Regions from separate parts of the Homo sapiens genome. Here region 1 is linked to region 2. The links come from fine-mapping of genetic effects on gene expression. A gene starts in region 2. The other region holds a variant in brackets. All regions are shown on one strand. Distances are from middle to middle. Region 1 has its middle 62 kb from the start of GZMB. Region 2 holds the start of GZMB (granzyme B).

The links. PIP is the estimated chance that this variant, and not a neighbour inherited with it, causes the effect.
Region 1: its variant is the best candidate, but not a certain one, in a credible set for the expression of GZMB in whole blood (INTERVAL, PIP 0.53).

What each region holds. Positions count from the first base shown.
Region 1 is chr14:24,688,795-24,704,519 of GRCh38, forward strand. No RefSeq gene overlaps it. Among named protein-coding and RNA genes, the nearest start is that of GZMB, 62 kb to the left of the region's middle. RefSeq lists an enhancer at 6,398-6,447. The variant G/T (reference allele first, on the strand shown) is at 8,796.
Region 2 is chr14:24,626,720-24,642,444 of GRCh38, forward strand. GZMB (granzyme B) reads right to left here and starts at 7,471. Exons shown (of 5, transcript NM_004131.6): 1 at 7,387-7,471; 2 at 6,196-6,343; 3 at 5,605-5,740; 4 at 5,139-5,399; 5 at 4,235-4,495. The coding sequence starts at 7,441. The coding sequence ends at 4,352. It overlaps GZMH-AS1 (GZMH and GMZB antisense RNA 1), which reads left to right and starts at 6,383. Exons shown (of 3, transcript XR_007064087.1): 1 at 6,383-6,629; 2 at 7,577-13,909. RefSeq lists enhancers at 6,850-8,049, 12,164-13,363.

The DNA.
Region 1 (15,725 bases), 62 kb after region 2:
TTCTTACAGTGTAGTTTTATGCAGAAGGCTGGCCACATTCTCACAATACCAGGTCTTTAGAGCACTGCAACCCAGGAGGCCCTCAATAAGGAGGGTTCACATAGATGAACCTTCCACATGAAGCATGTGCTTTTCCTTCAGTTTCATATGATGTGATCCTCACTCAGTAAAGCCTGTGAAATATATTCCAGGAAGCACTGAATACTTCTTTCATCTTTATTTATAAACTTCTATGAGTCCTCCCAGCCCGTCCTCCAACTAGCACATCCTCACTGCCTTACAGAGCAGGAACCCAAGCAAGTACTTGAAGCTTAATTGATCTGGATGTTTAGAATCAAACTTCATTAGCTGAAATTACTGCAGTTTGCCTAATTTGTTTCTCTATGTGAGCTCTGATAAGGTTGGTTTAACATCTTCTAAACTGTGGTGTTTATCATCATCAATGCCTACTCAAATTACCCCTGCAGAGTAATGGGCCAGGAGAAAAATGGTTTAAAAGTTATAGCTATTTTTTGTGGACATTTCTACACATACCATATACAGTATGTGGTGTCCAAGTCACTACAAAAAAGCACTTATTTCCACAGGGCAACTTCACTTTTTAAAAACAAAACACTGCCAGAAAAATCTTGTCAATCATCAATATTCAAACATTTTTAGGTGTTAGAAATTCTATACATTTTGAGATTTTTTTTTCTATTTATAGACAGTGATTAAACCCATTGTTTTGTTATTTTTCCAGTCTGTTAGAGACTTTTGACTAACCTGTGTGTGTGTATGTGTTTGCAAATACATACATTTGTGTTTGTGAACAAAGCATTAATTTAAAAGAGGTTTGTCTCTAAGAATGACTCTATTGATCTATTCCAAATGCAAATAAACTTTTAGCATGATTGAAAGTCGTATTGAGTCTCCAGGAGGAACAATGGCTACTTACAGAAGCAACGGTTGCTTGTATAAGGAACAATGGTTGCTTCTATAAGAAGGGGCACTGTGAGGGAAACTTTCTCCTATAAACCCATTTATCTATCTTTAATTGCACATGTTATCTTCTCCAATAATTAAAAACAAAAAATGCATTGTCAGTAACAATAATCCCAAATAATCATTTTTCCATACTACTACTACCTGTTAGTGGTGCTATATATATAGCTTATATTACTATCTACATACAAATACGTCATTTCAGTGTGTTCTGGCAGTAGCCAGGTAGGTGTTTGAGCGTTGTGTTGACAGTCTAACCATTGGTAATTGCTTTAACATGGAAATTTAATGTGAGGAAGCATGGCCAACATGCAGAATATAGAGACTTATTTTAACATCATCACACGTACCTCAGTATTTTGTGTCCTTCTCCTAGGATGAATGAACATTTCATTCATTCATGCTGACAGAAGCTCTGGTTTCAAAAGGGACAAGTCGCCACCAGATTTGTAAGAAGTGTGTCTTTTAGATGGTCTAGTTAACCTTTCTATATTGATAAAAACCAGCATTATTTCCACATTTCCTCATACTTCTTAAGTATACCCACTTGTGCTAGAAATGGAAAATTCAGAAAATGAAACATGTAATCCAGAGCCCAAACACCATGCCTACAAAAAATAGGGAACTCAGCTAATAAAGCAACATTTGTCTTTCTTATTTGTTAAGTTATCTACATGATTGTATCAATTCTTGACTGAAATACCATGCACCCCTGGACTGACTGCCTGGGAGTACAAATGATGTAGGGAGTAATTGTGGTCACACTGGCATGTGTATTTAGGTTTCACTTAACAGTTCTCACCAGGGGAAATGTGAAGCACCTGGCCCCTTGTCCCTTCTCAATGTCTCCCCGACATCTGTTATTTTAAGGAGCCCTCCAGGGGTCACTCTTCACTTAAGGCTCACTCTAGAATACCTCTGAACTCCTTCTCACTCCTCTGGCGGCTTGTGCTTTGCTGTTGTTCACTTGCAAGCCTCTTTCCAGGCGCTTCCTCCAGGTTAACATGACACCACTGGAGCTGCCCACCTGGCCAGGAAATGCCACCTGCCCTGTGTGTGGGCCCTTGCTGCTGCCATCCACTTGCCAATGGAGAGGGAAATACCCACCGTCTTCATTGGGTCTGACCCTCTTACCGGGATCCCACAGCCAGGTTTCATGGCCCAGAGCTGCTCCAGTGCTTTGGCTTTTTTTTAGAAAACAGCTTTATTCAGATAATCACATACTATACAACTTGCCCGTTTAAAGTGTGCAAATCAGTGTTTTTTGGTATATTGTGTTATTAATTTTTAAAAATTATAAAATGTATACAACAGAACATTTACCGTTTCAACCACTTTTAAGTGTACAATTCAACGGCACTAATTACATTCACAATGTTGTGCAAACATCACTATTTCCAAAACTTTTTCATCATCCCAAACAGAAAGTCTTAACCATTAAAAAATAACTCCTTATTTCTCTCTCCTCCAACACGTGGCAACCTCTAATCTAATTTTTACCTATGCATTTGCCACATTCTAAGTACCTCATATATGCAGAATCATACAATACTTATCTTTTTATTTTGGTGTCTTTCATTTAGCATAACGTCTTCCAATTCATTCATGTTGTAGCATGCATCAGAACTTCATGACTTAATGGCTGAATAATATCTCGTATGGCTATACCACATTTTGTTTTTACCTGTTCATCTTTTGATGGACATTTAGGAGGTTTCCATCTATTGGCTATTGTGAATAATGCTGCTATGAAAATTGGCTTATAAGCATCTATTTGATACAATTGTTGGATCATATGGCAATTCTATGTTTAACTTTTTGAGAATTGCCAAACTGTTTTCCACAGCAGCTGCACCAAGGTACATTCCCACCAGCAATGCGTGAAGGTCAACGCTTTTACTTTTACACAAATACCACGTTTTCCCCCAAGGCAGGTAAACACTGACAGGGCTGCTTGGAAAGGACAGTTTCAGTTCACAGGTGGATGTTCAGAGGTACCTAGTGCCTCATTCTAACCTGGTTTCTCTTTGCTCCTTCAGTTGTCTGCTAGTCATATTTGTTCATGCCTGGCCCCCAGTTATTAATACAGGTTGAGTTCTAGTCCCCGAAACTTTTTAAGCCTTAATGCAAATTAGTCAAAAAAACGCAGATATAAGAAAGGGGACCCACTGCTAGTTCCAGACCCAAATGTCTACTTTGGCTTAGCTGGGTGAAACTTTTAATACTGTATTTATGTAGAGACTGAGCTGGTGGCTCTGCCTGAAAAGGCTAAACAATTTAACGAAAAAAAAAGTCATTCATTCGATGAGTTATGAACTGGTTAATAAGCCATGTGAGTCCAGGCCCTTCAGGAAGCAGGCACCGAGATGGGATGAAGGCTGGACATGGTGGCTTGTGCCTGTAATCCCAGCACTTTGGGAGGCTGAGGCAGGAGGATTATTTGAACCCAGGAGTTTGAGATCAGCCTGGCCAGCATAGGCAGACTCTGCCTCTATAAAAAGTAGAAAAAAAAAAAGAAAAATTAGCCAGGCACTATGGTGCACACCTGTGGTCCCAGCTACTTGGGAGGCTGAAGTGGGAGGATGGCTTGAGCCCAGGAAGTTGAGGTTGCAGTGAGCCATGATCACACACTGCGCTCTAGCCTGGGCAACAGAGCAAGACCCTGTCTCTCTCTCTCTCTCTCCAGAAATACATTATAATATATAATTAAACATATAGAAGTTATTATATATTTATAATTTAATTATAATTTTAAAACAATTTAATTATAATTTAATTCCTATATATTTAATTATAACATATAATTAAATATATATTTATATTTATACATTTAATAGAACTATATATTTATTTATATTTATATATTTAATAGAAATATATATTTATATTTATCTATTTAGTAGAAAAAGAAAGAAAAAGAAAATAAAAAAAAAGATGGGATAAGATGTGCAAGAGATCTCTTTGGGAAATGTCTGAGGTGGGCAGGAAGTCAAAGGGGCCAAAAGAGTCATCAGTTTGAGACATAGTTCTGGCTCCTAGTCAAAGCTGGGCATCAGAGGAGGCCCTCATTTCCGAGGAATGGGCCTGTCTCAGTCTCGGTCATGCTCAGTTTTGAGCTGGAAGCAGCCCTGGGGAGGCAAGGTCTCAGCACAAACACAGCGATGGGTTTCAGAGCAATAGCTGGGGCCGCAGTCGAACTTCTGAAAGGCGCAGTTCCATTGAGATGATCAAGTGGGTTTGTGCATAGTGACATTTAGAGCGATTCTTAGGAAGTTTCCGGGAAAAAAAAAATTCTACTGGGAGGATCTTTCGGCATTTCCTGTTAGAGGCCTTCTCTTCTGACAGCCCTCTAGAAATTTCACACTGTACTCTATTTACTTATCACAGCAATCTGACAATGTCTCACCTTCCAAAGTGCTTGGGGTTTGTGGTCAGCTATGTGTTAACTTTTTGATCAAAGTGGGGGGTTCTAAGTAGAACGACTTTAACAGAAAGTCATTTGGCACTGAATCTGCTGAGTGACTATAGCTTTGAGTGCTTTGACAGCTATGAAACCACTCTATTTTGATTAAGTCCCTTACCCAAATGGCTCAAGTGGTGGGGTCAGAACTGGAAAACAGACCTCCTGACGCCCAACCCAATGCTTCTCTCAGTATTTTTCAATGGTATTTTATTTTCCCCTTAAGTTCTCCTTCATTGTTAGCGATAGTTTGGACCCCTGAAAACTTCACCCTGGCTTGCAAATCCCCTGGGACCTGTGGGACCTGTGGGCATCTAAGAGGGATGTTTTGCTCAACGTGGTGGGAGGACTTCATTCTATGCCATCTCACCTTATCTCTGATGCCTGCATTTACCATTTCCTCCTCATTAAAATCTTCACTCACTTATCCTTTGTCTCCCAGCATCCTCTCTCAGTTCCAGCCACAAACCTTGGCTGTGTTATCCCTGCTGCCTCTGGCTCCCCTCTTTTGACCCAGAGTCCCACTGGGTGGATCAACCAGGAGCTGTCTACACATTGGACATAGCTTGGGGCCTTCCCACCCTTGTGTTAAGGGACCCCACGCAGGAAGGTTGGCACCTGCAGCTTGGCCACGCATCAAGGAGTGAATTACTGATGTCATGGAATAGGCTTTTGAATTCAGCGGACCTAAGATACCTTCCCACCCTCAGAATCTGTAAACTTTTAGAACTCTATTCATAGCAGGAATATACTCTTCTCTGTGGCACTGAACTAAATTAGAGAAAATGCATTGACTGCGGACAGGGAAGGGAGTTTGATTAATTAGGGGCCTAGCTCAGGCATGGCAGCAAACTTTCACTGCTCCTGCTGTTGCTGTACATTAGCATTCAGCTGTTGCCGAGTTTTAAATAGCACCTCTCCCCCAAAGGAAAACTTCAAGGTCCATTCATTTACTAAAGCCTACAAATTTTCCCAGGGGATCAAATGCTAGACTGTCAGCCCTAGGGTCAGGGAGGCTATGCTTACACAGTTCAAGGAGAGCCTAGGGAAGGTTTCTTTTCCCTGCTTTCTGTGCATGCTCCTGGGGAGGGAGTCTTGTGTTTGCTACACTGTCTTTCCTTATTGGGAATGGGGGCAGTGCAGCTTTTGCTGTCTGGATACAACATTTTTACATATAAGACAATGGGGTTTACAATTCTGTTTTCATTTCACTCTTATTAAAAACAAAATGGAGGCACTAAGACATTTTGGTCAAGAAAAATACAAGTCAAGGCTGGGAAGTACAAACAGCAACACGAGGACCCCATGTTTGTAGAGCCTAACACAAGTTACAATGCCTTTCATACTCAGAAACTGATTTCATCTTACATACATCTTGAAGGGTTTACAGGGCAAATGCTGTTATCTCCATTTTATATGAAAAACATTCATTCTTTTAGCAAGCAAGTACTTAGTATCTACTAAAGTTTCCTTCCTAATATTTATTGAGTGCCAGGCATAAGTTACTTGCTATCTAATCTAAAGCCCAGAGTGACCCTGTGAAATAGTTGCTATTGTTAACCCCATTTGGCAGGTGAGAAAATGAAACCACAGAGGAGTGATATGGGATGGCAGAGTTAGGATCTGAGTTTGTGCTGTCTGACTCCAGAACCAGTGCTCTGGACTGTTCTGCGGTACCCACAAGCAGTCTGTTAACCACATGAAGAAATAATGACTCAGGTCGAGTGGATAAATGCTGCGAGGGAAAAGTGCAATGTGCCACAAGAAAATAGAACAAGTGTCCTAACAATCTAGAGATTGAGGAGAGGCTTCTTTAAGAAAATAACAATTAAACTGAGGCCTGAAGAAGGGGTAGGAACAAGACAGGGGAGTGGGGTGAGTGTGGGAAGAGTGTGCTAGAGAAAGAGAACAGCACAGGCAAAGTCTGAGTGATGGAAGGAGACCACACTGTGAAGGACTTGAAAGAAGCTTGTCTGTTTGCTCTCTAGAGATCATGGGGGACAGAGGGAGATGAGGTTAAAGAAATAGGCAAGGTAAGGCTTGATGGTTCATATTAGGAATTGACTCAAAGCACTGGTAATCCACTGGAGGGAAGATTTCAGCCCATGGAGATGCATGTGGCTGCTGTGAGGCGAGAGGATTAAAGGAGGCAAAAGCAGAAGTGGAGAGAGTGGCCAGGAGACCATGACAGGAAGTGGACGCAGAGAAAGGAACAAGTCGGCTGATGTTGAGGAGGTAACGTAAAGTTGACATGACCTGGTGACTGCTGTGAGCTGGGAGGAAGGAAAAGCAGACAACATCCAGATGCGTGGCAAACCCCTCAGTTGACAGTGATGCCATTTCCTCAGAGCAAACACCAGAGAAAAGCCAGGTTGGTGATGTGGTGAATAAATAGAACACAAGTGAAATTTTGAACAAGTTGAATTTCAGATGTCAGGGAAATATGCAGAGAAGCACATGAATCTGGAGCTCACAAGGGAGTTCTGTGCTAAATATACACATCCATGAGTCACTGAGACGAGCCCCAGGGAAGAGTAAAGTTGAGGCCTAGATTATAACCCAGCACACTACCATATTTCAAGGTCCTGTAAAGAAGGGAGACCCACAAAAGAACAAGGAGGAAAAAAGAAAAAAACAGAACTATGGAGTTAACGAAAGGGGTGGAAAAAAAGAGGGACTATGTAACTAATGTGAAGACATCAGGTAAAATGAGGGTTGAAAAGTGATTTAGGTTCTCAAGGGCATGAGTGGTCTTAGCAGGGGCCATTTCAGTGCTGTGGTGGGTAGAGACATTATGTTACAGTGAGTGGAGGAGTGAGGGAGTATAGGGTCAGTGAGTGGCAGAATGAGTGGACAATGAGTGAGCGAAAAGAAAGTGCATGGAAGAGTGAGTGAGTGGAGGAGTGAGTGAGTGGAAGAGTGAGTGGAGGAGTGAGTGGAGAAGTGAGTGAGTGGGGGAGTGAGTGAGTGGGGGAGTGAGTGAGTGGAGGAGTGAGTGAGTGGAAGAGTGAGTGGAGGAGTGAGTGGAGAAGTGAGTGAGTGGGGGAGTGAGTGAGTGGGGGAGTGAGTGAGTGGAGGAGTGAGTGAGTGGAAGAGTGAGTGGAGGAGTGAGTGGAGAAGTGAGTGAGTGGGGGAGTGAGTGAGTGGGGGAGTGAGTGAGTGGAGGAGTGAGTGAGTGGAAGAGTGAGTGGAGGAGTGAGTGAGTGGAGAAGTGAGTGGGGGAGTGAGTGAGCAGAGGAGTGAGTGAGTGGAAGGTGAGTGAGTGGAGGAGTGAGTGGAACGTGAGTGAGTGGAGGAGTGAGTGGAAGGTGAGTGAGTGGAAGGTGAGTGAGTGGAAGGTGAGTGAGTGGAAGGTGAATGAGTGGGGGAGTGAGTGAGTGGAAGGTGAGTGAGTGGAGGAGTGAGTGAGTGGAGGAGTGAGTGGAAGGTGAGTGAATGGAAGGTGAGTGAGTGGAAGGTGAGTGAGTGGAAGGTGAGTGAGTGAGTGAGTGGAAGGTGAGTGAGTGGAGGAATGAGTAAGTGCAGGAGTGAGTGAGTGGAGGAGTGAGTGACTGGAAGGTGAGTGAGTGGAAAGTGAGTGAGTGGAGGAGTGAGTGAGTGGAAGGTGAGTCAGTAGGGGAGTGAGTGAGTGGAAGGTGAGTGAGTGGAAGGTGAGTGAGTGGAGGAGTGAGTAACTGGAGGAGTGAGTGAGCGGAGGAGTGAGTGAATTGAAGATGAGTGAGTGGAAGGTGAGTGAGTGGAAGGTGAGTGAGTGGAGGAGTGAGTGAGTGGAAAATGAGTGAGTGAAAGATTAGTGAGTGAAGGAGTGAGTGATTGGAACATGAGTGAGTGGAGAAGTGAGTGATGAAAGGTGAGTTAGTGGGGGAGTGAGTGAGTGGAAGGTGAGTGAGTGGAAGATGAGTGAGTGGAACGTAAGTGAGTGGAAGATAAGTGAGTGGAAGGTGAGTGAGTGGAACGTGAGTGAGTGGAAGATGAGTGAGTGGAAGGTGAGTGAGTGGAGGAGTGAGTGAGTGGAAAATGAGTGAGTGGAAGATGAGTGAGTGGAGGAGTGAGTGAGTGGAAGATGAGTGAGTGGAGGAGTGAGTGATGGAAGGTGAGTGAGTGGGGGAGTGAGTGAGTGGAAGGTGAGTGAGTGGAAGGTGAGTGAGTGGAGGAATGAGTAACTGGAGGAGTGAGTGAGTGGAGGAGTGAGTGAGTGGAAGATGAGTGAGTGGAAGATGAGTGAGTGGAGGAGTGAGTGAGTGGAAGGTGAATGAGCGAGTGGAGGAGTAAGTGGAAGGTTAGTGAGTGGAAGAAGTGTGTGGAGACAAAGATTGCTGACAAGAACTCATAGTATTTCGCTGTGTTGTGC[G/T]GGATCTCCATGCTGAGAAAGATGTAGTGTCCCTGTAGGCTGCATGGTAAGCCACGGTTTCAGGCAGGCGCACAGGTGTGCCCGGTGGAGAGTAGTGGTTTTTCAGCCACCAGTACGGACTGATTCTTCGGTAACAAAACTTGCTCCTGTTGACTCCTATCCTGTGTTAATTTTTAAAAGTTTTCCTAATGACTGCTGAATGAGTAATACTCTGGGTCAGATTTTTTTTTTTTTTTTTTTTTTTTTTTTTTTTTTTGATGGCGTCTGGCTCTGTCACCCAGGCTGGAGTGCAGTGGCGCGATCTCAGCTCACTGCAAGCCCCTCCTCCCAGGTTCACTTCATTCTCCTGCCTCAGCCTCCCAAGTAGCTGGGACTACAGGCGCCCGCCACCACGCCCGGCTAATTTTTTGTATTTTTAGTAGAGACGGGCTTTCACTGTGTTAGCCAGGATGGTCTGGATCTCCTGACCTCGTGATCCGCCCGTGTCGGCCTCGCAAAGTGTTGGGATTACAGGAGTGAACCACCGCACCCGGCCCTATTCTGGGTCAAATTTTACAATTTTTCTTCTGGTTGGACCTGTCTGTCTTATACATAACTGATGGTTTTGGCTCCCTATAATAATGTAGAATTCATGTCTATATTTCCGTTTCAGGCCTTTTGGTCCATAAGAAAATCTGTTGTTTTAGATAAGCGAAGTGAAGACTATGCTGAGGTTATGTGCGTGCATTTAATTAATGTGTAGCATCTCGTTTTGTGGCACTTAGGAAAAAGCCGCATGAAGAGGAGGGTATTTTAGGAAATCTAAGACTGAGCACTGGTTTGTCCATGGCCTGTGGCTTTGACAAAGCCCTCTTCCACCTTTGGGGTCACGTGCAAATCAAAGTGAGAAGTAGGCAGCATTTTTGTGTGCTCAGCCACAAACCCTAGGAGTCCTGATGGACATTTCATCGTGATGCACAATGGAGGCATCTTGATGAGTGTCAGGAGGACAGATTGTAATGCTACATTCATACGAGGCACTCCTTTGCCAATTATTCCCATCCAAGAGTCATTCATTTTTTATATTAGAATGATATTAAATTATAACAAGAATGAAAGGTGAACTAAGAAATCTTACTGCCCACATAAATCTTCCCTTCTGGTACCATCATTCTTCAAAAGGAAGAAGGCATATTCTCCCATATTTGTAGAGGTCCTGCTTCTGAGGGTCCTAGGGACCCTGTAGATGTCTGGAGGACACAGCAAAAAAAAAAAAAAAGCTTTCTAATTGTGTGTGTGTGTGTGTGTGTATCGTTTGGAGCCAGTGTGTAAATTGAGATCACAAAATTCCTGAAGAAGTTCAAGGTAGTGTTTCTAGAATGTTGCAACACTCCATATGAAAGGAAAAAGTCAACTGTTTACTTGGACTTAAAGGGTGTGTCTGCAAAAACGTTACCTGGATTTACTAGATATTTTGCCATTGAGTAAATGTAACCTGGTCTAAATTTCATCCTAACTTGGCACCCATAGATTGCTCTGACATCCAGCTGTTATTATATCCTGGCTAATGGTAAAGTGGGTCATTGTTTCTAATTTTTCAGTAGACTCATGTCTCAGGTTGTTTTGAGCACTTCCTTCTATATGGTAAATCATTAGTTGCAGTTCCCAGAACTCTGCTTCCTCTTTCTATCTTCTTCATGTGGTAGCAATAACAGTATAGAATAAAGCTAAATAGCACATTCATCTATGAAATGCAATCACATTCAAATGAAACTCACTTGTTTGAGGCTTTTGAGCCTGCAAAGTAACTACCTATTTGATGAACCAAAAAGGAAGACAAGCCATTTGACTTAAGAGAAAAGACCAGGGGGTTTCAGGGTCTTTGTCACAAAGCTATTGCTTCTTGAATGGCATTGTCCCAGGCCTGGAAAGCAACTGACTTCTGAGACAAGTGCAGTTTGCCTCAAGCCTCACTGCATTGTGCCATTAGATAGAACCTGAGTGAGACCCAAAGATGATAAAACTGTGCAGCCTACCTGACTTCTTGAAATTCCTTTGTTGAAAGAATCCTTAATTTTGAAATTTCTCCAAGACATTTAATTTGCTCAATTTCTTAATAAATCTTCCTGTAATTTCTCAGTGGGCCATGCAGGCAATATTTACTTTATTTGAATAATGACTAACAATATAGATAAGGAAGCTTCTCTTTAAAGTGTATCAATTGATGAATGACTTGGGCAAGATTCACTTTACGGCTCTTGGCTGTATTATTAGTCATTTTATAATAATGAGTTTTTGTCACTTGAAAATTCAACTTTCTTTGTGAAAACCCAGTTATAGTCACATGTGTTTGGTGCTGTTAGCTAGGGAGAATGTGACCATACTCACCCTGTGACAATTCAATGACTTTGGCTTTGAAGGAAAAATTTACTAAGCTTTTTGATAGTACACCCTTGAAGAGCACTGCCCAATAATATGGAGAATCACAAAGCTGGACAGGCCCTTAGATCTCTTCCAGCCAAAGCCCCTGATTTACAGAAAAGTAAACTGAGGCACAGAGCCGACCACAGGGTTACCTGTATTGTTAGGCTGCCCACCCTAGATCAATACAAGTTTCCCATGTGCTTCTGCTTTTAGGAAATACATGGGGTTTTGTCCCAAATTTACCCTCTAGTTGGGGAGGTAAAAGTGGCACATGTAAACGTTTAAAGATAGCACACAGCAAGATATCAAGTATAATCAGATGTAGCCCGTACTCAATGCAACAGGCTGCATTTTATAGCCATGCTGCATATTAGGACCAGTCCGTAGTTCAGGTTGGAAAACAAAGCAAGTTTTGAGGCAGAGCAGAGCAGAGAGAACCATCATTCTGTGGTATAACATAATCTGGGCCATCTGCCGCTTTAGTCTGGGTTACATGTGGCAAAACTGTCGAGTGCATCAGCCAGAGGGACTCCAGGATGCAGATAACCCAGCTTAGAACCACTCTGACAAGAAGATCAGGAAAGCCTGAAGCTCTTGCCCCACGGGACTTTCTTCCATCTCATTCTGGCAGTGTCTCCTAAACAGGAGGCCCATATAGTACAGGAGCTAATAGCACAGGTTCTAGAGCCAGATGGACCTGGATAGGTCCCAGCCCTGCTAGTATGTCATTGTGTGACTTTGAGCACATTATTTTACTCAAGTTTCATTTCCTCATCTGTAAAATGAGGATATAATTAATGCCTGCCTCACTAATTCTGTGAAGATCAATTGAGATAATGCATGGAAGTAAAACATCCAGCAATTTCTGACATAGAACAATGCTTATTGCAAAGATCTATTATTAATATACTCAAATAAACTATGCTATTAGCAATGAGAGAGTGTGTGTGGGGGTGCTGTGTGTGTGTATATGTTTCCATATACCATTTTCTGGCTGTTTTAGCCATCAAGGAGAGATTTGAATTATGGAATCCAATTGGTTGTACAAGGAATAGCCATATAATGGCTGGAAACAACAAATGATGTTAAGGTGGAATCCTAAGGAACAGCTCATTTGTAAGTGGTCCTGTGAATTGTTAGAAGTTTATCAATCGGCTTCTTTTTTACAGGCACAAAGGAAGACTACATTTCCCAGGCTGCCTCACAGTCAGGTTCAGGCCATTTGACTGCATTATAACCAATAAGATGTGAGAAGAATTCATGTGCACCACTTCCATGTTGAATGTAAACCCACTTGATGATTCTCTACTCTTGCCACTCTTTCTTCTCTTTTCCATGGTCACATGTTCCAGATGGAGTAACTACCACATGGAATGAGCACATATCCCTTAGTTATTGCTGGTAGCAGAGCCAAGGAGTGCAGTTACCCACAGTTTATAAAATATTGCATGAGCAAGAAAGAATGTTTTACTCTGTTAAGTCTCTGATTGGAGATACTATAATAATATTAGAATAATAATTTGGAAATTATTATGGAAACTAGTGCTAATTATCCTAATGCCTAATTATGCAAACTGGTTGACTAGAACTATTCAAATGCAAAGAAAATGAAGATAACAAAAATGTCCATATTGAAATAATTCAAAGACCAAGTTTAATAACACTCAATCATATTAATAAAACATACAAGCCATTTTTAACATCATCCCAAAAATTATGTTATTGGGTTGAGTTTACTTTTGATTATGCAGTTAACCAAATAGTTTTTTTTTTTTATAATATCCCAAAAGGCAACATTCTGACTTAGGACTGAAAACAGGGTATATGTTTAGTTGTTGCCTGAAAATGCCCTTCACTACATGCTGCTGAGTGAAAAACAGGAGCATGTTTCAAAAAAGTATAGATTGACTTCATTGAAGAAAAAAACAATTACAGTGTCTACAGTGATGTTTCTCATGGCAGTGGGGTTATAAATAGTCAAGTAATTTTTCCCATGTACTTTATTATATTTTCTAAATCTTCCACAAAAGCACATATGACTTGTAAACATGGAGATAGTAAAATGCTGTCTTTAAAGTATGCTTTAAATATTATTTCAAGTTCTTTATTCTTTTACAGATAAATAATCCCTGAAATTACTAAAATAGAACAACAACAACAACAAAATAGGCTATTCATATAGATTTTGATAGCAAAATCTTGCTTTACAAAGATTTGTATCTTTGAGCTTATGGGCTTGAGCAAGTCAAGTCACATCATTAGTTGCAGGTTGTGGGAGGAAGGGCCACAGCTCAGCTAGCAATACCAAGGTGATTTTCAAAAGGAAGGTTTTAAGCTGAAATAGCAGAAAGACCAGAACATTGGCCTGAAATATCTGTGCTTGCTTTGGAAAAATATCGGTAAGAAAAATTCACCGTAAGAAAGACATTTCTGGTGAAGTTTCTTTAAGAGTCTTCTAGTGGCCTAAGTTTTTAAGTTTTTTAACTGCTTTATTGAGGTATAATTGTTATATGAAAAAAACTTTCCCATATTTAATGTATACAATTTAATGTTAGGCCATAAGCATACACCTGTGAAACCATCACAATAATCAAGGTGGTAAATATATCTATCACCCCCAAAGATTTCCTGTTGCCCGCTCCTTCTTTGTGCAGGTAAGAACACAACATGAGATAGACCCTCTCAAATGCACAATACAATACAGTATCATTAACTATAGAAACTATATTGCACAGCAGATCTCAGGAAGTTATTCATCTTGAATAACTGAAAGTTTATACCTACACAACAACAACTTCCTATCTATCCCTGCCCGAGACCTTCCCCCAATCACCATTCTCTGCCTCTGTGAGTTTGACTATTTTAGATACCTCACATGAGTGAAATCAGGCAGTATTGCCCTTCACATACAGTCCTCCAGATTCATCTATGTTGTCACATATGGGAGGATTTCCCTTTTTCCAATGCTGAATAATATTCCATTGAATGTATATACTGCATTTTCTTCAATCCATTCATCCATCAATACAATTTAGATTGTTTCCATATCTAGAATATTGTGATAATGCTGCAATGAACATGGAGTGCAGATATCTCTTTGAGATTCTGATTTAAATTTTTTGGATCTATAACCTGAAGTGGGGTTGATGGGTTATATGGCAGTTCTATTTTTAATTTTTTGGGGAACCTCCATACTGTCTTTCATTGCGGCTGCACCATTTTACATTCCCACTAACAGTGTACAAGGGTTTAAATTTCTCCGTATATTCAGCAATTTATCTTTTGACTTTTTGATAACAGCCACCCTAACAGGTATACAATGTGCATCATACACCGTGACCTAGTGGGATTTATCCCTAGGATGCAAGAATGGTTCAACATGTGGAATTCAATGAATGTGAATTCTGTGTCCCTTCTGTGACATCTCATCACCTCCTATGTGACTAGGTCTTGGTGGGAGAACCAAGATCTCTCTTGCCAAACTTCCTTGTCTTAGAACTTGCAGATATCCATTGTTGCCCAGTCATGCCCCAGCGCAGCATAAGCCTGCCATGCGTGCTGATGGCTAGGAACTGGGGTGGTCAGAGACAACTGAAGAGATGGGCTTTTCTCCAGTTGGACCGAATTCTGGACAGTGACACTAGTTTCTTCTCCGTAATAGCTTGACCCTTTTGCCTTGGCTTAAGTTTGGTTTTCTCTCATCCCACTTATATCCAACTGAAGCTCAGTCTTCACAAAACTTCCTGAGAAAGTGTCTGAACTCCAACACACAGTTGCAGAACCTTCACTGAGCATTTGCTAAGTGCTAGCATCGAGTTAGGCCTGATGACCCACTCAGACTTTGTCGTAACATCTGTATAGTACCACTGCATGTCACTCACATTGGAGAAAACTCAAGCTCAAATGGCTGCCTAAGTGTTCTCTCTTAGATTAATTTTAAGGATGCCAAAGTCAATCTGGTAGATAGACTGGAGATGGGCATCGTTTCCCTCACTGACTTGATTTGTTATTTAAATTATTAGGGTGATAGTGGAGGCATAGAAGTGGGGTTCTGATGGAAAAACCTCCAGCTCGCTTGTACATTGCGGTTCCCTCTGTCACAGGTACTTGGAGCCAACGCAGGCACAGCAAATGAAGCAGGTCTCTGTTTGACATCCAGAAGACATAAGCTTTATTTTTTCTCACTTCAGGGTGAGAGGAGAGGAAAAGAATATTTCTCAAAAGTTTTTTCCTCTATGGACATCTGCACATAACATGACTTTGCTGAGGTGCCTGGCTGCAGGTGCAGTATGTGGTATTGCTGTATGAGTTTATACTTCCCCCCAGCCAGAATACATCATTTGCTTGCCCTGACACTGTAACCCAAATGCTCATACAGCCTCTTCCTTTGGCTTAGATATGTAAACAAAAACAAATAAAAATCCTATTAAATTGTGTCTTACCTCCAAAGCCACCTTATCGTTCAATAGACGATTACATTACTGAAGGAACCCAGAATACACTACCTAGATTACTTACTTGCAATAA
Region 2 (15,725 bases):
TGCGGGTGGGTGTTATACCATCTCTGAGAAGCTGTGCAGAAGACTTTATCTCAAGAAGCCTATCTGGTATGATTCTTTATCTGTTGTAGTGCCTCAAAATTTCCTTTTAAAGGGTCTTAGTAGTCTTATCTTTTGGGCTACAGTAGTCCTCCAATGACCTTCACTAATGGTCATGGAAATATTAGGAGGTATCTCAGTGAATCCCATCTTCCCATGGCAATCAGGATTAATCACCCAGCTACTAAAGTAACCTACTTATCTGACTGTTGACTTCTTTCTCAGGAATTGAGACCTCTAGACCAGTAAAGCTCAAGATTATGGTGTAACTCCTAATCAGAGGGGCAAGGAATGTTTGGAAACATTCCCTGTTTCCAAAACAATGTATTCTAGCTATGAAAGAACCAACATTGTATATTTATTATTGCTTAAAAGCATATGCTACATCCTCCCAGCACCTTGGGAGGCCGAGGCGGGTGGATTACAAGGTCAGGAGATTGAGACCATCCTGGTTAACACAGTGAAACCCCGTTTCTACTAAAAATACAAAAAAAAAAAAATTAGCTAGGTGTGGTGATGGGCGCCTATAGTCCCAGCTACTCAGGACGCCAAGGCAGGAGAATGGTGTGAACCCGGAAGGCGGAGCTTGCGGTGAGTCGAGATTGCGCCACTGCACTCCAGCCTGGGCGACAGAGCGAGACTCCATCTCAAAAAAAAAAAAAAAAAAAAAAAAGCATATGCTACATCCTGTAGCACAGCATCCCAATCTTGCCGGTAGCTGTTTCTCAGCTGTCATTATTTTCAGTCTTCAGTACGCTATTCTGCAATTCTCTCAGGTCAGCTACTTCTAAGTGTTATGGTCCATAAACACATTGCTGCCATGGTGACATATGTTAGTTGGTCAAAAGCAATGTTGTGTGGGTTACCAAGATAAGAAGTAAACCCTATAAGCTGTGTAAGTTCACAAAGAGTGGTACTGGGAGAAGCATGGTGGTGGGCTGGGAAGGCAGTCACACCAATACATATTCCCAGAAACAACTTAGCAAGATTTTGCTTTCTTTGGGGTCTATCTCCTCCATGAGCCCACTTGGCAGTTCTCTTCCTGACTGTGCTGGGACCTGATTCTTCCTGTGGCCCTGGAGGAAAAGAGGGATGGTGGGAGTAGATCTCAGTGGGCTGAGGCATTTCCTTTCCTAGAGTCAGTAGGGACACTAGAGAGATTTTAAGCAAGGGAAGGATTATTTCTTCATATGGTAGGGGTTGGGGGGGAAACTTCCACAGACCAAGGAGATTTGAAGCAGTCAGCATGTTTAAAGTACTTACCTGCCTCTGAGTCCACCCAAATGCACCTGTGGACAGATTTCAGCTTACCAAAGGGAAGTGCTTTGAATACTTCTCACTAAATAGCTGCTGGAGAAGCCCAAAGTCTTTCTTTCCAGGGAGGCGTCTGAGCATAAACTTAATTCTTGTCTGGAGATTCCAGAAAGTCATCTTGGGGTGAGCATTAGAAGACTTTTAAAGCTACTTTCTGGCCTGGTTGTCAGGGGGCATGGGCTCTGTTCAGGCTCTGTCCTAACTTCTGTGATATTTTCAGTCAGTCACTACCCTTTCCTGAAACTTTGTTTCTTTCTTCTTGCTCAGAAGTGGATAAAGTCCTACAACAATGATTTTCAAGCCTGTTTTAAACCACAGAACCATTTCCCCAAAGTAAGTATCATACCTAAACTGATTATGAATGTGACCAGGCAACTTTAAAAAATACTATTATTTTGTTTTGCTGCCTGTGTTTTCCTTTTCCAATGAAGGAACCAAGTCATTAGTATGTCTTAGGTGCAGGGATTTTTTTTCCAGCTCCAAATCAGAAGCTGTGTGACACCCACTTATTTTATAAAAGTGCCCAAGATTATTAAGAGATTGAGTTGCGGCCGGGTGTGGTGGCTCACACCTGTAATCTCAGCACTTTGGGAGGTCGAGGTGGATCACTTGAGGTCAGAAGTTCAAGAACAGCCTGGCCAACATGTTAAAACCCTGTCTCTACTAAAAATACAAAAATTAGTCGGGTGTGATGGCGCACACCTGTAATCCCAGCTACTCAGGAGGCTGAGGCAGGAGAATCGCTTGAACCCAGGGGGCAGAGGTTGCAGTGAGCTGAGATTGCACCATTGCACCCCAGCCTGGCCGATAAGAGTGAAACTCTGTCTCAAAAAAAAAAAAAAAAAAAAAGGATTGTGTTGCAGCATGCTTTGTGCACACTGAGATGAGAAAGGGCGCAACTTTGACAGTTACATGATCCTAGAGGGAGATTTTACTCCATGCCACAAGAGTGTAGCTGTGTATATTTGAGACAGGGAAGCATTAATCTAGAGCTAGTACTTATGTTCAACTCCCAGGCAGTACTCCATATTAGTGGCAAGACCTTGGAGAGGTGGTTGCTGGGAGTGTTTGGCAGGGTGAGCTTAACACTGGGCAACCCTTATTCAACAATATGTCATATACTCTATCGGTGGCCTCCAAGCCAAGAACTTCCTAACATTCACAAGTCCAGGTAGTTCTGGAAACTATGAATGTAGCAGTAATCAGTGGCCTAAACATTCGAGGCATTGTTCCATTTTTCCAGCCTGCGTGAGCCTTCCTGATTCTAGTTTCATTCTGTACAGGCAGGAGCCTGTATAATGACAGGGATTATGCTTCTGAGTGGTCCAATCAAATGGGTGTTTTTCCTACAATTTGAATCTTTATAATGACATTCATCCTTGCTACTTTTTAAACAAATGAAAATAAGCCTGCCCTAGTTGTCTTCTTCCTGCCCTGCTACTCTTCCCCCTAGGTGAAGATGACGCTCCATTGAACAGTTTGACAACTTCATGTCTAGAAAGTAAATGATTAAAGTTGTTTTCAAATCCCATACATTGCTGTTCTGGGGTCGCACGTGACAATACTTATACAAACTGTGTGAATATCTGGCCTCTTTCTCATATCTTCCAACCTACGATACCCAGAGACCCACGTGGTTCCATAAGGGCCTTGCCACTGAGATGCCAGCCCACCTCATGCCCTGGCAGGGAGGGGCCTCAGAAAAACCAGAAATAAAAATAAGATACAAATACTTTAATCCCATGGATTTCCATATACATCTCGCTCTTGTGAACTAATCTGAAGGACAGAAAGTGAGTGAAACAATTTGGATGAAAATTCTCAACATTGTCAGTTTCACTTGGGTTCAGATGATAGAGTCTGTTATTGTGTTCTCTTACTATCCTCTATGCCTGGTACATAGTAAGTGCTCAATGAGTATTTGTTTGTTGATTGATAGAAAAGATTGTGCTTTCTAGTCCTTCTGCAGAAAGGAGTCCTTTTGAACTCAAAGGGCTGATGTAGCCCAGGTGGCTAGCAGGGAATCTTAGCCTAGAGGCCAGCAGTGACCAAGAGGAACAGGTTTAAAGGGGCTCAGCCTGCTGACTGCCCAGGTGGGCAGTGAACCTTGAGTGTATGGGAGGACACTGGGCTGGATGGGAGGGGTTGAGCTGGCCCTACCTAGGGGAGAGATGGAGCCAAGGGTTGGAGAGAGACCGTGCCAGCCTTGTCCTCCATGGGTCTTACCTGGTTGCCACACAGGCCTGGTTTTTCTGAGGCCCCTCTCTGCCAGGGCATGAGATGGGCTGGCGTCTCAGTGGCAAGGCCCTTATGGAACCACATGGGTCTCTGGGTATCTTAGGTGGGTAGATATGAGGGAGGGGCCAGATCAGATCAGTGTGGTCTGGAGAGGACAAGAGTTGGTGGATTCTGAGAACACTCAGCAGGGATGAAGAGAAGGGGCAGCCAAGAGGCTGGAGGACGAGCTGAGCCTTGAGCTCAGAGGAGGGTAGAGAAACTAAGCCCAGGGGAGAATGAGGAGCCCCAGTGGGGGATGAGGAGTTAGGTCCCATGGTATTATCCCTTTTTTCTCTGTCATGTAACACTGGAGAAGGAGGTAAGAAGTTTACCCAAAGCCCCAGGACCAAAGTGGTCCATGTTGTCTCCTGATGGTGCTCAGCTTCAGCCTTGGCAGAAGGGCAGGCCCTGGAGAAACTGGTGTGGATAGGAAGGAGCTGAGTATCAGCTTCATGTGGGGGTTTGGGGAGGTGGCAAGGGGTGAGGGGAGAGGAGAAAGCAGAAAACAGCAAAATTGTGTCATTGGCCTGCATAGCGCAGATGTGGTGCCTGAGAATGAGGGTCAATGAATAAACAAGAAACCAGCTTTTCCACTCAGCTAAGAGGTATTTATTCAGTTGCTGGCACCTCTCCCAGTGTAAATCTGGACTTGGCTCCAGAGAAGGTGTTTCATTACAGCGGGGGCTTAGTTTGCTTCCTGTAGTTAGTAGCGTTTCATGGTTTTCTTTATCCAGTGTACAAAGCTTGAGACTTTGGTGCAGGCTCGTGGAGGCATGCCATTGTTTCGTCCATAGGAGACAATGCCCTGGGCCACCTTGTTACACACAAGAGGGCCTCCAGAGTCCCCCTGTGAATAGAGAGTGGAAGGACTGAGCTGATGCTCCTCCGGGTCCTGCCCTCTCTTCCATCTCAAGCCCCCTTTTAGAAAAGGCCAACTTGCACAGCCTACATGTGGGAGACCAGAGGGCAGGGCAGGCCGCTGGTGGCCCCCAGCTGCCAAGCTCTGGCCCTGGACATTGTTACTGCTTCACCTCATCCCAGGGGCCAGCCTCCGTCATGTCCCCCAGATCCTGAGATCGGAGGTATGTGGGACCGTTGGCTGTTTAAGGACCCAGAAGTGGGCAAGGAGGGCTGATGTCCACCATGGAGGACCAGCCCATTAACCACGTTGGGTACCAGCCTCTGAAGACACACCTGGTTATAATTACTGCACCCCCAGTGGGCACAGTTTCCTAATATCTGTGACCTGGAGTGGGTGGAGTGTTGCAAATTCATCCTTCCAAAGAAGCACCATCCACCATAAGCCTCCTGGTAAGTTTGCAGAGGCCCTAATTTCTCCCCAGCTCAGTCTAGTCCCCTCTTCTCTTTCCAGAGAGAAATATCACAGTCTAGTGGGTGAAGGAGTCCCCCACTACTTGAGTCTCCAGGTCTCAGATATTCCCCAAACATCTTTCTCCCAAGAGCCAATCCAGGCAGGTGCATAGTCTTACCTTAAAGGAAGTCTTTTTAATCTCTGGGTCCCCCACGCACAACTCAATGGTACTGTCGTAATAATGGCGTAAGTCAGATTCGCACTTTCGATCTTCCTGCACTGTCATCTTCACCTCTTGTAGTGTGTGTGAGTGTTTTCCCAGGGGGGCCGTCTGCCCCCAGCCGGCCACACTGCATGTCTGCCCTGGCTTCACCTGGGCCTTGTTGCTAGGTAGCCTGAGGGGCTGCACAGCTCTGGTCCGCTTGGCCTTTCTCTCCAGCTGGTGGGGAAGAGGCAAGAAAGTCCAGGTCAGCCAACGAACTTCTGGGCCCCGACACAGTGATGGGGCTGCACAATCTTCCCTCTCCTCTGAGGCATAGGAACTAACCAAGAGGCCAGGATGGAAAGGAGGGAAGGGCCGGCATTCCAGGGGGAGTGGAACCAACTGGACCAAGAAGAGCAAGAGTGGCAGGAGTGTGCCTCACCTGCAGTAGCATGATGTCGTTGGAGAAGTTCTTAGGATTATAGGCTGGATGGGGGATGGGTCTTTTCACAGGGATAAACTGCTGGGTCGGCTCCTGTTCTTTGATATTGTGGGCCCCCAAGGTGACATTTATGGAGCTGCACAGAGAGCAGAGTGAGGATGGGGGTGGAGTCACAGGGTATACAGCCCAGAGACAGTGAAGAGCAGGTGACAGCTGGGGCAGGGCTGCAGCTGAGGGGAAATTAAGGGGACAGTCGGTCCCCAGGAATTGGAATTCTGGTAATTGCACCAGGTTTCTCAGGGTTCGGTTCCCCCTAGAAACACAGGTGGAATTGCTTCAGTTTGTATTCTATGCCAAAGTATGCCCCCAGTTCTAAATATGGCAGGCTTGGTCACTCTGCTGTTTCTTACTTCAGCAGCACCTCTGGAACCAACCTTCCCCTCTCTCCACAAACTTAACTGCCCTTTTCTCACCCTCTAAGGAGACCTCCTGGCATGTGTGTTCACAGGAGCCCAGGGAGCTCCTTGGGAAGAAGGCAGGGGTCTCTGTGGAGTGTTTCCAGGAGGGTGTGGGCTGTTTTCTGCTCCTCACCTTCCCCAACAGTGAGCAGCTGTCAGCACGAAGTCGTCTCGTATCAGGAAGCCACCGCACCTCTTCAGAGACTTCTGATCCCAGATCATAAGATAAGCCATGTAGGGGCGGGAGTGGGGCTTGGCCTCATGTCCCCCGATGATCTCCCCTGAAGGAAAAGTCTGTCTGCTTGTGGGCACCCATGGAATCTGCTGGGTGGGCACCTGCTTAGTGGCTCCAGAACTCCTGGGCATTTGGGAGCCTGGGATAGCCTGGAGTTGGGAGTGGCCTGGAGGAAGGGGCTTCAATTTCCTGCTCTGAAAAAGGGAAGAACAGCAGACTTTGGTCTGTAAATCTTTCTTCCATATGTAGTTGAAGGCGAGCATACCTGTCTTAGGGACAGTGAAATCCCAGAGGCTCCTGATCATTCCTCTCCTGACTTTGCTTTGTTTCAGGTGAGTTTCCAAGACCCTTATGAGTCCTGTGGTGTCTAGGATAGTGCTGCTTTCTAATGGCCAGGGTGTAAGTGGAGGGATCTAGATACTGTCATATCCTGTTTCCTAGAGCCTGACATGTAGTGGGTGCCCAGTAAATGTTCATGGCTGCATGATGGACTGGCTCCAGTTAGCCTCTGGATGAGGGCTGGTAGAGCAGTGCTGGTGGAATTCTAGAAAGCAGGGAAGCTGGGGCCTGCCGTAGTGCCTCATCCTTGGAAAGAGGGGAGCCACCAAAGGCCAGGGAAGAAAAGCAGAGTTGGAGAATGGGACTGAGCAAACACATTAACAGTGTTCTGAGGACAGTGATTGTACCAATTCTGCTGTCAGCTGAGCTCTGGGTTTCTCTCCTAAGTAGACAGTGAGAGAAGCACCTGTCTTATCCCAGAAACAGAAGCCAGGCCTACTCTAGAATAATTTAATATTTCTCTTTTCTAGTTTCCCATCCTCTGCCATTTACTTCTAGGAAAGTCCTACTCTCCAGGTGACAAAGGTGGGCTCTGGGGAAGGGATAGTACCCACTGGCTCTTCTTGAGAATGGCCTGCTGCTCTGCCATTCCTGCTGATAGCTTATCCAGCATCACACTTGGGGGGTCTTGGTAGAATGGGAGCTGGAGTTCAGAACATTCCTGGTAGATAGATGGATCAGGAATGTGGAGAAAGGGCAGGAGACCTGTGGGATGGGGTTGGGCCCCCGAGGGTGGAGACGGTCACTCACCTGCATCTGCCCTGGGCAGCAGGAGGAAGGCCAGCAGAAGCAGGATTGGTTGCATCTTCTCAGGAAGGCTGCCCTGGTTGGAGCTGCTGTTGTTTCCTCCTTGCTCTCTTTTAGCTCTTGGGAGAGGAAAGAGGTGGAGCAGGCTCAGTGACTTCATGTTCCCCTCTGGTTTTGTGGTGTCTCATCACAGATTTTCTGTAAATGCTGCCCACCCCCACTGCCTCTGCCTGATGACGTCCTCTGGGTGCTTGTGTGAGAATCATGCAGTGACCACATCATCACCCACAGCTGATGACTCAGAGTGGACCACCTATTCAGCCCAGAGCAGGAACCCAAGCCTATGAAGTGAATTGTAGGATGTGGTATCAGCCAGTAGAGGTACTGGAGCACCAGAAACCTGAGTTCCCAGTGATAGAACCGCCAATGCCTCATGGCCATGCTGCTAAATCCATCAGGATAGTTTCTTTAGCAGGTATGTGTTTGAGCCCTTCTGTTGTGCTAGAACCAAGCATGTTGGAGATGTGTCTCCTTCACTTAGAGAGCTGACCATCTGGTTGAAGAGACGGAAATGCCAGGAGCCAGAGTACAGTTTGGGGAGGGCTATGGTAGCACAATACACAAGGCAGTAACAAAGCATGGCCACCATCTACTAGACCCATCTAGCAACCCATTTATTATCATAGCTTCCTTTCTAGAGAATTTCTAACATCCCTTATTTAGTTACAAATGTTTAGTGTGAGAGTCCACCTCTTTTCTGAATGCTTTCAATAAAAGTCCTGTACTTGACATTTTATTGGGCTAGATTAATGAATTGCTAGGAGTCAAATCCACTTTGGGTAGGCTGGGGTCAGTCTACTCAAGCCACTAGAACCAAGAATGAGAAAGGGCTGGTTCTCTAAAGGACGTTTGTGGTGCTAAATTGCTGATACCATATGAAGTGAGGAAGCATGCCAGGCAGCCAAAGATCAGTAGTTGTGTTGTTTAGTATTCTGTCTCCTGTCCAGAGAGCCACACTTCTTACATAGCAGGCTCAGCACATAACAGGCTCACAGTAAACATTTGCTAAACAAACTACACTAATGCTATCATTATAATGGATGTGAAAGATTGTTGTTTCTGAACAGCCCGTGCCCAATTCTGTTAAAAGACAACTAAGTCTCTCTACATGGTTCGATTCTTGTGATTTGTTTCCACCTTTATATTTTCTGTGAGGAAATTTTTCTATGAGGAATGGTATATCTCAAAATATAGAATTCCAGTGTAAACGTCTTCCTTGTCAATAGCAAGCCAACTACATTTATCAAACTTCTATTTTTTGAACCTAGCTTGCCCCATAGTAGACGTTTTAAAAATAATTTTTTCTGATTATAGTCATAATATATGTTTGTTAAGAAAATTTGGAAAGTAGGAAGGGAAAATATCACTTTTTAACCTGTCTCCCACAGACTGACTGTTACCATAAGCAGTGTGTTTTAAATACTTGGGATCACATTGTACATACAATGCAATTTATTTTATCCTTGATTAACCCTACAAATTAAGCATTTTCCCCATGCTCGTAGAAATCTTAGTCAATACAACTATAGTCTTTCTTTCCTAGGCATTAAAAAATTTAATATGCAAGTAATTTTTAAATAATTTTAGCAAAGCGAAAATAATAAACATTACCTAATTTCTCATCATTCACTGATAACCATCTTTAATGTCTTGAAATATGCTCTAGCACATTTTTTCTCATGTAATATCTGCATTTTTTAAAATTAAAAGGGGATTATGCTAAACATAAGTTTATGACCCATTTAAAAAATTGAGGTAAAATTCACATAACATACAATTAACCATTTTAAAGTATTCAATTCAGTGACATTTAGCACATTCAAAATCTGCAACCACCACCTCTGGATATTTCATATAAACGGAATCACACAATACATGACCTGTTGTGGCTGGCTACATTCACTTGTAATAATGTTTCTGAGATTCATACAAGCTGTAGCACATGCCAGTATTCGTTCTTTTTAATGGAAAAATAATATTCCCATTGTATGTTTATACCACAAGTTATTTGTTCATCTGTCAATGGACATTTGGGTTGTTTTCATCTTTTGGCTATTGTAGCTAATGCAGCAATAATAAGCATTTGTGTACAAATTTCTGCATGAACAATATGTTTTCAGTTCTTTTGGATATATACCAAATATATATACTTTTGGAATTTCTGAGTTATACAATAATCCTATTTTTAATTTTTTAAGGAACCACCAAACTGTTTTCCACAGTGGTTGTACCCTTTTGCATTGCTTATCAGCAACATAGGAAAGTTCCTATTTCTCTGCATCCTTGCTGACACTTGTTATTTTAAAATTATTATCTTCATCCTAATGGGTGTAAAGTAGTATGTCATATGGTTTTGATTCACATTTCCTTTATGAGTAATGATGTTGAGCATCACTTCATGTGTTTGCTGGTTATTCGCATATCTTCTTTGGAGAAATGTTGATTCAAGTCCTTTGCCCATTCTTAAAATTGCGTTGTTTTTGTTTTCATTGTTGAGTTGGAAGAGTTTGTTATATATTCTGGATACTCAGCCCTTATCAGATATGTGGCTTGTAAATATTTTCTCCCATTCTGCAGATTGTCTTTTCATTTTCTTGATATTGTCATTCCATGTGCAAATTAAAAAAATTTTATGCATTCAAATGTATCAATTTTATCTTTTGTTGCTTGTGCTTTTGGTGTCAAATTTAAGAATCCATTGACAAATCAGAAACCATGAAGATTACGCCTGTTTTCTTCTAAGAGTTTTATGGTTTTGGCCCTTATATTTAGGATTGATTTATTTTAAATTAATTATTGTATGTGACATAAGGTAGGAGTCTACTAGAGTATTTTGCACATGGCTATCCAATTGTTCCAGCACCACTTGTTGAAGATATTATTCTTTCCCCACTGAATGTTCAAGACCCCCTTGACAATCCTTATCAAAAATCAAATGGCCATAAATGTTGTGTTTATTTCTGGACTCTGAATCTATTCCATTGATCCATATGTCTATCCTTATGCCTTTGCCATGCTGTTTTAATTACTGTAGCTTGTAAGTTTTGAAATTGAGAAGTGTAAGTACTCCAACTTTGTTTTTCTATTTCAATATTGGTTTTGCTTTTTTGGATCCTATGGAATTACATATGAATTTTAGGATTGGCTTTTCCATTTCAGCAAAGAAGACCATTTGAAATTTTGACAGAGATTGCATTGAATCTATAGATTGCTTTGGGAAGTATTGCCATTTAACAATATTAAGTATCCCTATCCGTGAACATGGGACATCTTTCCATTTAATCAGCAATTATTTGTGGTTTTTAGTGTACAATTCTTTCACTTCCTTGGTTAAATTTAGTCCCATGTATTTTATTCTTTGGGATGTTATTATAAAGGAAATTGTTTTCTTAGTTTCCTTTTTTTATTGTTCATTGTGGGTTTGTGTATAGAAACACAACTGATTTTGTACCCTGAAATTTGTTGAATTTGCTTATTAACTCTACTAGTTTTTGTGTGGATTATTTGGGATTTTCTTTGTATACAGTCATGTCATCTGCAAATAGAAATAGTTTTACTTCTTCCTTCATAATTGGATACCTTTTCTTTCATTTTCTTACCTAATTGCTCTGTTTAGGAATTCCAGTGCAATATTGAATAGCAGTGATGAAGTGAGCATCTGGTTGGATTTTCTATTTCTTCTTGAGTCTGTTTTGGTAGTTTCTGTGTTTCTAGTAATTTGTCCATTTCATCTAGACTACCTAATTTGTTGGTGTACAAATGTAGATAGTATTCTTTTTATAGTCCTTTTAATTTCTCTAAGGTTGGTAGTAATGTCTCCACTTTTATTTCTAATTTTAGTAATATAAGTCTTCTACAAACTTCACCATCTCCTATATTTTTCAGGGACTTGGGGAGAAAAATTAAGGAGGTGCTGAAGAATAAAAGTCTTTTGTCTATATCTCTGATGTTAGATTCTGATTCTGTTAGAAGAGAGAGGTACCTCAGTGGCTACCATATGGTGATGGAAAAGTTTATTCATATTACACACGCTCTTCCCTTTTATTCCTTATTTCCCTGCTGTTCTTAATCTGTAGAAGAATGTCATGCCTTGCCCATGAAGGGAAATACTCTTGGGTATTAGCCTTTCACTGAACCACAGCTAGTCCCTTTTCGAAGTGGCCAAGGCCAATCCTTACAGGTAAATGAGAACAGCACAATGACATGACATTCCCACACTCATACATGACATTTGATTCTGATGTTGTGACCTGATTTCCCTGAGCTTGATCATTCTCTTAAGTCATGGCAAAGTCAGAACTTACAGGCATAAGGAGCCAGAAGTTGGCCCTAGATTTCATTTGACCATGAGACTCAGCTATGTTGTAGAGAAGAAAATCTGTTTTTTTGTTTTGTTTTGTTTTTTGAGACGGCATCTTGCTCTGTCACCCAGGCTGGAGTGCATTGGTCCGATCTTGGCTCACTGCAACCTCCGCTCCCTGGGCTCAAGTGATTCTCGTGCCTCAGCCTCCGGAGTAGCTGGGATTACAGGTGTGTACCACCATGCCCAACGAATTTTTGTACTTTTAGTGGAGGCAGGATTTCACCATGTTGCCCAGACTGGTCTTGAACTCCTGGCCTCAAGTGATCTACACACTTTGGCCTCTTAAAGTACTGGGATTACAGGTATGAGCCACCACACTTGACCTGTAGAGAAGAAATTCTTGTCTCAGTTAAAAGTTATCTCTGTATTCCTATTAGGATAGGATGCTAGTCAGAATTCCTGGGATATGTACATAAAATCAAAAATAATTTGAGATAAAAAATCTGTCAGCAAAGAAGAACTTAGGTAACATATTAGAGTGGAGAATGTGGTACTTCCATTTTGCTTCTGTGGTAGTAAGGATTGGGAAGAGGGCAGAGATGGGAAGAGAAAAGTGTTTCTAGGACAGACATACATCTATTATTTTTCTGGAGTTTGAGTATCTACTAGAACAACCTTTAATTTTCCCTTATTGCCTATTCTTATCATTGCCCAGCCACCATCACAAATGAAAAAAGGATGGAGAAGAACAAGTCTGGATGTTGGGTTGGGGACAATCCAGTAAGACTCTGGAGTGGGTAAATGTCTGGTGTGGATGAAAAGAGGCCTACAGAAGAAGGGGGAGTAGAAGTAGGTTTGAGTGAGAACAGTGCGCCCACCTCCACCAAACCGGGAGCAAGTGTGACAATACAGACTCAGAAAAGTAAATTGGCATGGACTGCACTTCCGGGTTGGAGCAAGTTGAAAGGCATCAATGTTCTGGGCTGTGATGTCACCTTCAATGTGACCTTGGGTCATTCTCAAGATCCACCCCACATCCCCATAACCTGGGGGTTTTTACATTCCCAGGATCTTTGCCCACCAAGGCCACTGCCCTTTCCCAAAGCATCTTGTTTCCACAGAGTCTGAAGTTCACATACTAATGTTCTGGAGTGATGGACTCTCTCTTAAGTATCTTGTTTACAGTCTCATGCTGTGCATTTTTTTTTTTTTTACCATGTCTGCATGGGATATGGCAAAGGGTTTGGTTTAGTGTAGATAAAAAGAATGCTGCAGAATCATTCGCTAGAACCTTTAGCATATGATTGCAAAGTTGGTGGGTCTTTCTCTTTTTCTCTCTATCTCAAAGTTCAGGGCAAGTATAATAATAAGTTATTGTGTTTGGAAACAAATTCATGCTTAAGCATTCTTATGTTATATCCCCTCTCTGTTCCCCAGACGTGGTATGACATCTACTTGTGGACACACTCTGCTTTCTGGTTTTTCTGTTTCTGATTAGAAACTCAAAAACAATATGAGAAACATACCTGAAAACAGCAGAAGATCTGGATCATTCCGGCCAGCAATTCAAAGTCTGCCAAAGGGAAATCAAGTATTGTAGAAACCTACGGGGCCTCTCAGAGCATTTTACCAGAACTGTGGCAGGGTGACTGATTGTGGTATTCTCTTTGTATTCTCTATGCTGAATCATTTGCCAGAACTTCCAATATATGATTGCAAAACTAGACTTTTTTAATGTTATCTTGTCTCAGATTTCTAAGCCTGAAAGATTGAGGCTGTTGCTGAACGATGCTTAATTAACCAAGGCATTGAGCTCCAACCATGAGGCTTTGAGGAGTTTGATATCTAGCCCCTCTTGGCATCATATGCTAAGACTGGCTGTGAGGCTATGAGAATCTTAAGTACCTGCACGCTGTTCATAAGTGGTACTCTAAAACTCCTGAGGAAATAAGGGAGACTGGAATTAGTGGGATTAGCTTGTGGGATTAGCTTGTGTCCTTTGGCTTAGCCTCTTTCTCTCCAGAAATTTCACTTTTGGCTCAGTCCTCACAGGGGAAGAAAGTCTTGTCCAAAGATGGCGTCTACCCTGTGCTCCACTGTGTATCCCAGAGGAGAGCATCTTTACTGTGGAATGGACTTCCAGCTGACTCATGTTGGGGAAAGGTGAGCTGGGGCATAGGCACCTCATAGCTAGCTTCTAATAATCTGAGGTTCTCATTTGGTAGCAGAATTAGTTGTTTTGAGCATGACTCTGGTGAAGGAGAAATCAAGGAAGAGGGACAGAAAGGGCATTAATATGAATCCCTATCTTACTGTATTACAAAGCGTATAAAAGCGGGTTTATATATGTTATCTCATTGCATTCTGTACATGCTGTATGGCAGTTAACCTTGATCACATTTTAAAATGAAAGACTCAGAGATATTAAGTGATGTGCCCCAGGTCACATGGTTACAAAAAGTGTACACACACACTACATGCCTGAAAAGCTGCAAACTTTCCTCTCTATCAGTCTTAGAAGTGGGGAAGCTTCTTCTAAGTTGGCAATTTCAACTCAGCGAAGCAAAGTGCCCTCACAATTAGAGTTCTCTTGGGAATGGCTGTTCTGGTGAGCCCGTGTACTTTCTCTCCAGGGAGTTGTTGCAACAGTGGCTGGAAAACATCTTAGGGCAACTGGGAGGTTATCATGAGCATGCACATAAGATCTTTTAAGACCTCTTGCAACTGTGAGCATTTGCCTCTCAGCTGGAAGAGATCTGATCTGGGATTCGATTGCCAATTTCTGGGCCTCTTACCATCACCTATCAAAAGAGGATATGGGCTACAATACAGGTTTTAAAATGTTTTTAACTATAGAATCCTTTCTTCAAATGGATTATGTATGTGTTAAGGTAGCTTTTTGAAATCATATGTCTATATTTATCTATATTCTGTATACCTAAACCTATATCTCTATTTTTACATATCTATTTACACATATCTTTATATATCTTTACTTATCTTTACATATGTATTTACACATAGACATACTTAAATATACATAATTGTCTATATTTATTTTATATATAATTACAAACAGACAACACATGTGTATATGTGTGTGATATATATATGCATGTTCATATATATGTGTATGTGTTTGTCTGTTTAGTTGTTGTATATTTTTGTTTGTTTTGATCACTTCATTTCCCTTTCCAAACATGATCTTGGTACATTTATCTCAGGAGTATTTTCAGAAGGTGTGAAGTAAACTACTCTCCCCTTATTATGAAAGTGGCCAAGATCATTAAGATATTCTGGTTGAGATTTTGAAATTACCTGGCACATATTTCATACAAACTTGAAGATAATTGGAGGGAATAAGACAACATGAAGTGTCATAATAGATATGATAAAGAACTAAATAGATCTTCCAAAAATAAAAAGTGAAATAAAATTAAACGCTAAATGAATATGTTTTCTTGCAGATTGAAGACGAACAGAAAAGAGAATTATCAACTGAAAGAACAATCAGAATAAATTAGAGTACAACACACAAAAAACAAAACTAGTCTAGTAACTAGAAACTGCTAAAGGAAAATGAACACTTTTTATATAGGATGATAATCACAATTCCTATTGGCATTTAAAAAAAGTGTAGAATTAAAATACAAAAATGTTGGGAGATGATAAATGAGGTTTAAAGTCCTAAGTTTCTTGTATTTTCAGGAAGGAGGGTAAATTATTGATTAAATTTAGTTTTGATGGGTTTAACAAAATATGCTGTAATTTTGCCTTGTATTTTTAGTTTACATGTAATAATTGTACATATTTATGGGACACAGAGTGATATTTCAAATACGTATATACAATGTATAATGATAAAATCAGGATAAGTAGCATATCCATCACCTGAAACATTTATTATTTTTTTGTGTTGGGAACCTTCAAAATCCTCTCTTCTAGTTCTTTGAAAATATACTATAAATTATTGTTACCT